3 linked regions of the Homo sapiens genome follow. The protein of the gene in region 2 interacts with the protein of the main gene of each other region in a biochemical or structural test. Each region holds a gene or a part of one and is shown on either strand. Other genes may lie near its edges.

Evidence for each region.
Region 1: of the proteins of FAM20C (region 2) and F5, one has a biochemical effect on the other in vitro, tested with the Homo sapiens proteins (one large-scale study listed by IntAct).
Region 3: of the proteins of FAM20C (region 2) and PENK, one has a biochemical effect on the other in vitro, tested with the Homo sapiens proteins (one large-scale study listed by IntAct).

The regions. Positions count from the first base shown.
Region 1 is NC_000001.11:169,584,328-169,588,077, forward strand, and holds the start of F5 (coagulation factor V preproprotein), read right to left. Parts: upstream 2,155-3,750; 5' UTR 2,060-2,154; coding exon 1,902-2,059; intron 1-1,901. UniProt on the Homo sapiens protein: Central regulator of hemostasis. It serves as a critical cofactor for the prothrombinase activity of factor Xa that results in the activation of prothrombin to thrombin.
Region 2 is NC_000007.14:258,431-261,282, reverse strand, and holds the end of FAM20C (extracellular serine/threonine protein kinase FAM20C precursor), read right to left. Parts: intron 2,638-2,852; coding exon 2,578-2,637; intron 1,553-2,577; coding exon 1,303-1,552; 3' UTR 511-1,302; downstream 1-510. UniProt on the Homo sapiens protein: Golgi serine/threonine protein kinase that phosphorylates secretory pathway proteins within Ser-x-Glu/pSer motifs and plays a key role in biomineralization of bones and teeth.
Region 3 is NC_000008.11:56,444,487-56,448,236, forward strand, and holds the start of PENK (proenkephalin-A preproprotein), read right to left. Parts: upstream 2,156-3,750; 5' UTR 2,083-2,155; intron 2,015-2,082; exon of another isoform or gene 1,996-2,014; 5' UTR 1,940-1,995; exon of another isoform or gene 1,471-1,939; 5' UTR 1,468-1,470; coding exon 1,330-1,467; exon of another isoform or gene 1,321-1,329; intron 1-1,320.

The sequences.
Region 1 (3,750 bases), on a different chromosome or scaffold from region 2:
CGAGTTTTTCATTTATAAGGATTGTTTAAAGATGATTTGTTCATAATCACAAAATCATATAAAGCTAGAACCCTAGAAGGAAAATGTATGTATATCTTTTCTTCAATATCTCTTTGTATACATGTGAGTGACTAAACAAGTTTTCTAAGGAAATTTTTGAAAGTGTTCACCTTAGACTTGGAGCAAGAATAATAGATACATTTTACCTTTAAAAGGCATTGTCCTGCTAATATTATATGAAATAAGTAGATAGATGTCTGCTTTGTGCTAAAATACACTTTGCCAAAAGATGGAGTTGGCTATGTTGATATTCACCTAGTGAGTATCATAGCTCTAGGGGCAGGACAAGTTAGAACAAGTTCTTAGTTTAAGCAGCCAGATATATGGATTAGATTTTTCATAAGAAAATGCTAGAGAGAAATGATATGATTTAGGGTTAAACAATATGACAGTTTGTCTGGGTTGTGTTTCTATGGTTTTGACTCAACAATTCCTACCAGAGGAACGAATCTCCAGAACTTTGGAAACTTACCCACAGGATGAGGGGACAGAATGACCAGTCATGGTTCCCTGTGTACTCACCATGTGAATCAGACCTTTGCCCTATCTGGTTCTGCCTCCGGTATTTTGCTTGTTATTTTCAACGCTAACTACAGACAAGAGAAAAAACTCCCAAGCATGAACCCAGCATGCTACAAGAAAGCCAACAACCAAGTCTGCATTCTACTCATGAGCAGGCAAGATTAGTGTTAGAAGGACTGTTATTTTCCTTGGGGTTTTAGCTTACGGCAGTTCCCAAAGGGTGTGGGTGTGACCTAGATTATCACTTTGAAGTACGATATTTAAAATGATTATTTTTGAGAAGGAGGGATCTCTTCTTATTATAAGACCAAGATGGTATGTAATACCCTCCAAAATAACCCAGTTACAATGAGAGTTTTAAAAAGGTTAATATTATACACTAAAAGATCTCAAAATATTACATTATTTTTTGGCAGATTACTTTGGTTTTGTAATTGTAAAAGAGGAACACATCTTTCATAATGAAGTGTGATGTAAGGAAAAAAAGTGAGTCACACTAGCAGGTTTACCATTTAAAAAATAACTAACTGGAAATATTGAATAGACTGTATGATTTAGTTAATTTCTGAGAAGTCTTATTTTTAACATTTCAATTAGAAAAAATAGTTTGCAACTCAAGGATAGTATTTTATCTGAATTAAACCTCCTCTCAGTTACATATGCCTTTAAGTAGCCAAGGTAAACCATATCCCAGGACATGATGAACAGAGAGAAAAAAAAATGAAGAGTCACATTCAATAGGATAAATAAGTCAAATATGAAGCAGAAAAAAGGTGAAAGTACAAAAACATACAAGAACTGATGATATTTTGAAAGTCATTTATAAGGCAGCAATAAAATTATATGACAAAAAGCACAAGGTGTTCATTTTTAGTTTTAGAAGATGAAGCTATGTAGACAATGGAATAAATAATATGTAACTAGGAGTCTCATAAAAATACTATACAACTAAAAATCTGGAACAGGAGTTTGCAGGAAGGGCTAATGAGGGAGCAAGTGCCTGGTGCCTTTGAATTAACCAATATATAAGCCAACACAAACATACTAACAAAACTGTATTGAAAATAAACTTGAAAAGAAGGTAGCATCTAACCAATCAAATAGGGTGCTTTCTAAACCCTCAGAATGATAAACTACATTGTTGGATGCAAAATTAGCATTTGCCCAGTTTATTTAATTCAGTATACTCTCCTATTAGTTATATTTACTTACCTGAAGTTAAAAAAAAAAAAAGCCATGACATTGCAAAGGGAATGTTCTCTAAAAGAAATAGATTTTCCTCTCTAGAGAAGCCCACCCGGACTCCACACCTGAGTTACCTTGAGTTTGTGGGCTCAGGTCGGTAGCTCCAACTGATGCCCTGAGCAGCCACGTAGAACTGCCTTAGCTGTGCCGCTTCTGTCCCTTGGCTCCCCCAGCCTACCCAGCTGGTGCCCAAGACCACCAGGACCCAGAGGCGTGGGCAGCCTGGGAACATGCTTCCTTTCCTGCTCCCGCTGGCTGCCACCACCCCAGGACCTGGGCAGCGCTTGCCGAGCTGCTAACCACACTCCGGGCTGTCCCAGCTGCAATGAGCTCTAGAGGCTGTGGGTGGCAGCGTCCTCCTCCCCTGCAGTTCTTGCAAACGGCAGCAGCAGCCTCTGGCTCTCACTCCCTCCGCTTTTTCTGGGGCTTTTCCTGGCAGGGGTTTGGTGAGATCACAGCTCCCAGTGACCAGAGGTATTAGGGAGAGCAACCAAACTAGTGACTGTTTTACTGCAGGTGAAGAAGGGGCAGAGATCAGAGGCTCTAGCAGGCGGGACAATGCCCAGGGATTCATGAGCCGGACAAAGCTGTATCCCTCCATTTCCACCTGCCAACACCACGGAAGCAGTCGTCCGTTACCACTGACCTGAGGCCTGCCTGGGTCCAAGCTCACACTTGGAGAACCTTCTGTGCAGTGCAGTGGCACCCAACCACCTTAAGCAGATGGCTCCCCTTTTAATCTGAGGAAAAGAGTATTGTGCCCTGTTACTGGGCACTGAAACACTATTTTCAAGTGGTGAAGAAGCAGGGAACAAACACATGGACAAGGCCTACTGCTCTGAATCGCCTTCCTGGCCTCTATCAAGGCACAGTTCTGCCTTGATAAGGGCCTGTCGCCAGCTAAGCTGCAGCATAGCAGCGGGCTTGAAGAGCTTGGCTGAAAAAAATCAGTTGTCCAGATTTCAGTTTCACTTACTAGCTGTGTTGTCTTGGGCAAGTTACTGTACCTCTCTGTTCAGTTTTGACATCTGTGAAATAAGGATGACAATAATAATTTTTCCTGATAGGGTATGTTGGGAGGATAAAATGCTACTGTAAACTATAGTTCCAGCACTTAACACACAGAGGCTAGGCGCAGTGGCTCACGCCTGTAATCCCAGTACTTTGGGAGGCCAAGGCGGGTGAATCACCTGAGGTCAGGAGTTCAAGACCAGCCTGGCCAACATGGTGAAACCCTTCTCTACTAAAAATATAAAAAATTAGCCGGGCGTTGTGGTGGACACCTGTAATCCCACCTACTCGAGAGATTGAGGCAAGAGAATTGCTTGAACCTGGAAGGTGGAGTTTGCAGTGAGCTGATATCATGCCATTTTACTCCAGCCTGGGCAACGAGAGCAAAACTCCATCAAAAAAAAAAAAGAAAGAAAGAAAAAGAAAGAAAGAGAAAAAGAGAGAAAGAAGGAATCACAAATTTATTATTATGATCATATTTTCCTGTCTCCAGGACCCCTTGTATTCTTGTTTTTCTTGAAGGATCTGACTGTTTCACAGCACCTTAAATCTTACTTTGCTATTGATAGAGAATCTGCGAATTATATTGTCTGAGGCATCATAATGACTTGTCCTGGGTTCCCTGTATCTGCATGGCTCCAGGTTTCTGTCTTATGCTTTATGCATTCAGTACATTCAATAAATTGTAATCTGGCACCTCACATGAGGTCTCTGTTAATGATATCAGGCTCATCAACAGCCTCTTCCTCCCTCCCCACTCCCCCCAATATTCTGTCTTTTCTCCTGTGCTGATATTATTGCACCAACTTAGAATGCCCATTTTCTTCCTCTTTGCTGGGCCATTCTTTACAGTCCAGAGTTCTGCCTATCTCCCAGATTCTGGGCTCAAATTGGCTTTTCCATTTTATGAAC
Region 2 (2,852 bases):
AGGGCTCCTGGGCCGTGTGACGCTGGGCAGGTGGTAGCCAGCATGCTGGCTCCTGCCTCTGCCCCTCACATGGTGCCAGCAGGGGAGATGCTGGCCTGGGAGCCCAGCCCCATCTCTGCAGCCCCGAGGCCAGCAGTGGGAAGGGGCTGGCACCCTTCACGGTGCCCCTCACTCACCACAGCCCCGGGGCAGCTGCCCCACGCATGGCTGCCCAGTCCTGCTGGAACACTGGAAGCTGCCCATGCCAGGGCTACAGACAGGGGCTGCCCTCGGGGCCGCCGCAGCTTTGGGTCGCGGCCCCAGCCTCTGAGAGCAACCCAGGACGGACCGCCCTGCCTTGGAGGTGGGGCCCCACCTGGCCTGTTTGCACCAGGGCTTGGCAGGCAGCCCCCTCCGACCCCAGCAGGCCTCGGGTCCAGGCCACCTTGAATGCCGACTCCTGGCCATGCCTGGTTCCAGGACTGGTTTTTCTTTGGAGAGGGGGTGGACAGGCAGCCACACACCAGGGTGTGAGGGACCCGCCCCGTGAGGCCGACACACATCTGCTGTACCTTTATTGCACTTTTATGACATTGCAAACTATTCCACAAAACTCTGCAAAGGTCAGCCCACAGCTGCGCACAGCCAGCCCTGCAGGATGCACTTGCACCAACCGTCCACAGCCAAGTCCGAGGTGGGTGCTGCAGGCCAGCGGGCGGACTCGCAGGACGCCTGGTCATCGGGTCCTCCAAAACCACGTAGGCATCCGTCCACCAGCGCACAGGCCAGACGTCCAGCGAGAGCCTCCTCCCGTCCTCAGACGAGACCCTCCAGCCCTCCAGGAGCCGAGGCCCCAGGAAGGAGAAAGGGTTTTTACTTGAATTAGGTCCCGAGTGTGAGAGCACTTGAGGGGTGAGCTTGGCCTTGAGGGGCCCCCAGAACCAGGGAGGGCGGTCCTCGTGTTTGGTTTGGTAGGTGATTGGCATCTGTGTACACGTCTCTGTTTATATACTTATTCATCAAATATAAATACAAAATAGTAAATAAAGGCTCCTTTCCCTACAGAAAGGATGGAATGCCTCCGGCGCCGGCCGCCTCTGTCCGTGAGCACAGACAGCGCTTCCTTCCCAAGCTTTTCTGGTCAAACACTGACAAAATGTGTCCTATGAGACCTGGGGAGCCTCGCCTCCTGTGGCAGCAGCTCCCGACTCCGGATGATCCCGTCCTGCCTCTGAATTCACTGAATTCACGACGGGCGCATGCGCTTGCTGGGAGGTCCGGCGCCTCTGTCTCCGTCCCGGGCAGCGCAGCGGCCGGCGGACACTACCTCGCCGAGGCGGCTCTGTGCTCAGTGTCCAGGTCGTCATCCACCACGCTGTGGAGCCCGTTCCTCTCCACGCAGTCCCGGACGGCCTTTAGCACGACGCGGAGCCGCCGGTCCAGGGCCTCCAGGTGCGGCTGGTACAGCACGGGTGCCACCTGGTCCCCCCGCAGAGACTCGGCCATCAGCAGGCTCAGCTTGTACTCCTCCTTGGCCAGGAGCTGCAGACGCAGGTAGGTGGACTTCCGGATCCTGGGGAGGAGAGGGGCATCAGGCCTGGCACGGGACAGGGGAGATGCCTGCCCACGGGAAAGCGAGAGAAAGTGAGAGGGAGATCGAGAGAGTGGGGGGAGAGACAGAGAGAGAAAGAGGGGGACAGAGACAGAGAGAAAAAGACAGAGACATACACAGAGAAAGAGAGACACAGAGAGAAAGAGAGGGAGAGAGAAAGGCAGACAGACAGAGACAGACAGACAGAAAGAGACACAGATAAAGAGAAACAGGCAGACCGAGACAGAGAGAGAGACAGAGACAGACACAGATAGAGACGGCAGAGACGAGAGAGACCGCGAGAGAGGGGCCTGCGATCCAACACCTCATCAGCCTCCGGGCTGTGTGACCTGCTTCGGCGTGGTCTGCCGCCTCTCACCTGCACAAGGGATGAGGGTGCCCTTGCAGGATGTGGTGGCCGGTGTATTTCCCAGAGGGGCCCGGCAGGAGGATGGGGAGGTGAGGAGGGCGGCCCGCTCACCCAGGAGGATGGGGAGGTGAGGAGGGCGGCCCACTCACCCAGGAGACCGACCCCAGCTCAGCACATCCGCACAACACGGGCGCTGTGATGCCTCCTTAGAGAAGTACAAAGCGTTTGCCCTGCAAGCCTGCGTCCCCAGCCATGAAACGGGGGAAAGGGGGTCTGAACCCCCGCAGAAGGTGGCAGTGGCAGAGACCGGCAGCTGCGTGCGGGAGCAGGGTCCCTGTGTCTCAGCTGGCGTCTGCCCTGGCCTCGAGCTCTCTCTGTAACTGGGGTGGCAGGACGGACACAGAGTGGAGGCCCGAGGGGGCTCGAGCTGGATGGGCCTGGGGTGGTGGGCGGGTGAGGTCTGCGCCTCCAGGCCGCCGAGTGAGGGTGTGGGTTGAATTCAGGGCTGTGGTTGAATTCGGGGCCTTTTCTCTCCCATGTGATGGCCGGGGTGGGGTGGGGAAGGCTGTGGCCTCCTCTGTCTCCTGCGCAGTAGGGAGGAGGGTGGAGCTGGAGCCGGCTCCGGCAGGGGCTGTACCTGCAGCACTGCTGTAGCGGCACCAGGATGGAGAGCTCGTCGTGCGAATACTTCCCAAACCTTCCAGAAGAAAAGCAGAATTGTCAAGGGCCCCTGTACAAGGTTCCTAACAGGCTGCTGGGCTGGGAGCTGGGCCATGGGTCCACCTGCCTGTACCCGACACCCCAGGCAGTGGGTCCACCCAGCCCATCTCCAGCACCCCGGGCAGTGGGTCCATCCCACCCATCTCCAGCACCCCAGGCAGTGGGTCCATCCCACCCATCTCCAGCACCCCA
Region 3 (3,750 bases), on a different chromosome or scaffold from region 2:
AATTCTTTATCCACAAGATCTATCCTTATATTTGTAGCACTGGCTCAATTTTTAGGCATAGGTTAAAAGCTCATGACTACAGGAGAAAGAAGAAAGATGGGTGAAGGGGATTGTTTCTCCTATTGAAGATGAAACATTTTTCTCATAGTTTAAATATACAACCTTCCTATGTGTCTTCTCTTTAATGCCAAGTTAGCACAGGTCAAAGAAACAAACATTTAACCTGAAATATATACCACAGATATTTGGAAACTGTTCCTTGGTTTTCTCCCCATTTCAAACATCTACATAAGGTAAAATTTCCTCAATTCCAGGTGGAACCCAAAGCAGCTTGGATGAATACATTATTCTCTATGAGCTTTTTAAGTCACCATAAAATTTCAACAAATTTCAAAAGCAATGCAAAGGAATTGTCAGGGGAGCTGGTAAAAGTGAAGCTACCTGAGTCTCGAGGTTGGAGATTCAGACTCAGTAGAGCACCAGAGGTGATTCGACAGCCCATGGGGAACCATGATCAGAATGAAAGTTATTTTGTCCTCAGCTTTTTCTTTCCCCAACCCCCTGTAGTGCAGTGTATCTTTGGACTGTTGTCACCCATTGGACACTGGCCACTTCTCTTGTTCCTTTCTCATAGCCAAATTAAACTGTTGTTTTAGTTACTATTACAAAGGGCAGTTGAAACAGAAGTTGAATTCCAGCATCACTGGCTAGTGAGACAGTTTGAACTCTTTCCTGTCTACGGTTATTTCGCCTTCCTCTCCCCGTACCCCTTTTCCATCCCTTTGCTCTCTCCTATTTACAGGTGAGGGTAGGGAATGAGGGACCTGAGGTTAAGAGAGCTGGGGAACATAAATCTAAAGAAAGGCACCGAAATGTCACTAACAAAAAATTACATTATTTGTGGGAAAGATGGGAAGATGACTGCGTGTGGAGGGGCCCTTAGCTGGGATATGTTAGGAGTTGTGGTGACAGCCATCTTCCTTCTGACAGCCCAGGAGAGAACCCAGTGCTATCCGAGGTGCTGAACAGAGGACTTCTCGGGGTTCCCGAATTCCCAGGGTTAAAACAAACTTGGTTTGTGCGGCGACACCGCTACCCTTACCGGTCCCCAGATAGTCGCGGATCCCCGAAGCTAAGAGCCAGGGCAGGACTTCAGTCAGTGTTCCAGGAACAGCTGAGACACCCAGGTCACCACGGGCTCGCGCCGCTGCGGCTCCGACCCGGTGCGAACCGCCATACGCGCCGCGCGGTGGGCCGGAGGCAGTCCGCGTACTGTTGCGGAAACTCTGTCTCACAAGGTGCGCAACACTCGCCGCGCGCAACACTCACCAGGAAGTTGATGTCGGCCGGGCGCACTAGGCGGTAGCTGCACGTCGCGCAATCCTGGCTGCATTCGGCCCGCACGGTCGCCAGGAGCCCGGGGCCGAGCAACAGCAGCCAAGTGCAAAGTGTCAGGAACCGCGCCATGGACTGCGAGGAGAGAGGGACGCGTGCTTCGAGCCTGCCTGGGCGCAGAACGGGGTCCCTCGGCAGGACCCTCGCCGCGACAGCCTCAGCAGGGGATCGTCGAGCAAAAGCCCGCAGGAATGCTCCTTTCTGGGGCCCCGCCCTCCCGGCCGACAGCTTTTAGGTAGACGTGGAGGCGACTCAGATCGCCTCGCGGTTCCCGGGATGGCGCGGTCGCCCCCAACGCGAGGCTGCCTGGGGCACCCGGCTCTTTTCCTGGGCGTCCGCGGCCCAGGGCAAGATTCCGGAGAGAACGCCGCAGACCAGGGGCGAGAGAGCGGGAGCCGGGGGAGGCAGGACATTGACTGGGGTCACAAAGAAGAACCAGGGAACGCTGTTGGGGAACCCATGCAATGAAATGTGAAGGGAAAGAGGGCGGGCAGACGTCCCCAAACCCGCTCAGCAAAGACAAGCTTCGGGCAAATTCACTCACGTTGACGCTGTTCGGATGGAGCAGGCCAATTGGAAAAGCCGGGTTCAGACACGACTCTAGAGGGAAGAGAAGAAGGCAAGTGTGAGGAGGGCGGGCGTCGGGGAGAAGCGGGCCCGGGTGTGCTGGCGGACGTAGGGCCTCACCGTCGCGGTCCTCAGCGTCTCTGCGGGGTCACGGGCCAGGCTGCGGGGCTCTGAGCGCCTGCCTCGCCGTCCCGGGGCTTAACGGCTGCTGGAGCCACTTTATAATTAGCCCCAAACCGAAGGAGGCGCGCGCGCCCCAATCGCCGGCGGGCTGCAGCTGACGCAGGCCCTACGCCAGCCCCGCGCCGACGCCTTCGCGGGAGGGGTCGGTCCCCCAGCACCCGCGCGCCGCTCCCCCCGCCGAGCTCGGGTGGGGGCCACAGGGGGCGCTCGGTGGCTCCCCACACGGCCAGGTGACAAACCCAAGGCAGTTAGGAAGTTTGGGGAGAGTGAGATAGGATCAAGTTTCTCCGCATAAAGTCACTGAAATTGCACCGTGGGATGCGGGCTCCAGGGAGGGAAGCGAGGTGGGGGCGTTTGGAAGGATAGATGGACTGGCTTAGACTTCTGGAATGTGCTGGAGACCCAGCGGGCCGGTGAACCTGCCCCTTTCCCGCCTCCTCCCTGGGCCCCCTCGCGGGTCCCCGTGGGCACCAAGCACAGCCGTCCGGAATGTCGTCATTTATTGACCAACCTGTCCCCCACACTTGACTCCGAGTTCCTTACTGCAGCATCTAACAGCGTCAAGGTGCGCAGTTTAGGCGCTCAATTAATGGTTACAGGAACTGAACGATTGAAAGTTTCTGGGAATCTTAAAATCTCAGGACAGAATTTTCACCTTTCCAGTTAGAGACCCTTGGCCAAGCGTAGAAGCAGGTAAACCCTCAGGTTCCGGGACTGCGCGCTTTTCAGCCACTGTGGGAGAGGATCCGTGTTTAACCAGCTCCCCGGGGCTCCCAAGTCGAAGACCTACTGCCTTGAGAGCGCTGTCCAGGGTGTCCGGGGGTGTTGGATCAGTGAGAGGGGGGTGCCGGGGCGGGTGTAATGTCAGCGCGCCAGGAGTGTGGTGGGGAGGGAGGGATGAGGGACACCCTACCCGGGACGCCGGGGCTTGGAACCTCTTCTCCACCGGGAGGGGGCCGAGGGCACACTGTGGAGGCTGGTACTGTCCATTAAGACACGCTTTCCCGCTTCCTGGCTCTGCAAAAGATTGCTAAGCGGCAAGCTGCTTACATTGCCTGAGGCCTCAGTTTCCCTATTTGAAAAATAGGAACAGAGGTAATATGCCATTCATAAGGTTCTGGAGAGAATCAAATGAAATAGTGGACGAAATCTCTTAGCCTTGTGCCTGGCACTATAGCAAGCCCTCAAAACATCTTCTAACCATCCGTCATCCGTCCGTCCACCTTTCCATCTGTGACCATTGTCTGCTTACCTTATAGCTACCATCGATGTATCCAATCCACCTATGCATCTATGTCTCCTAGACCTAGGGGGAAACCATAAACAGTTCCTGGGAAAAGGTCCCAGAGGTTTCCAGGCCCTCTGCGCCCTCTGCAAAGGGCTGATTTCTACAGTCGCTAGGACCTGCAGCGGCGCTGCTCCCGCGGGGCTCCGGCCGCGCTGCATGTCCCATTATAGTCGCTAGAGGGCAGCGCTCTCCTGCGTAGGCTGGGCTTGCGGGGACTGGGGTCTCAGTTCTCCGCAGGCCTCAATGTGCGGGCTTGACACGCAGCCCTCGGATTAGCCCCGAAGCTGCACCCGAGCACCGCCTGCCTCCCGGCCGGG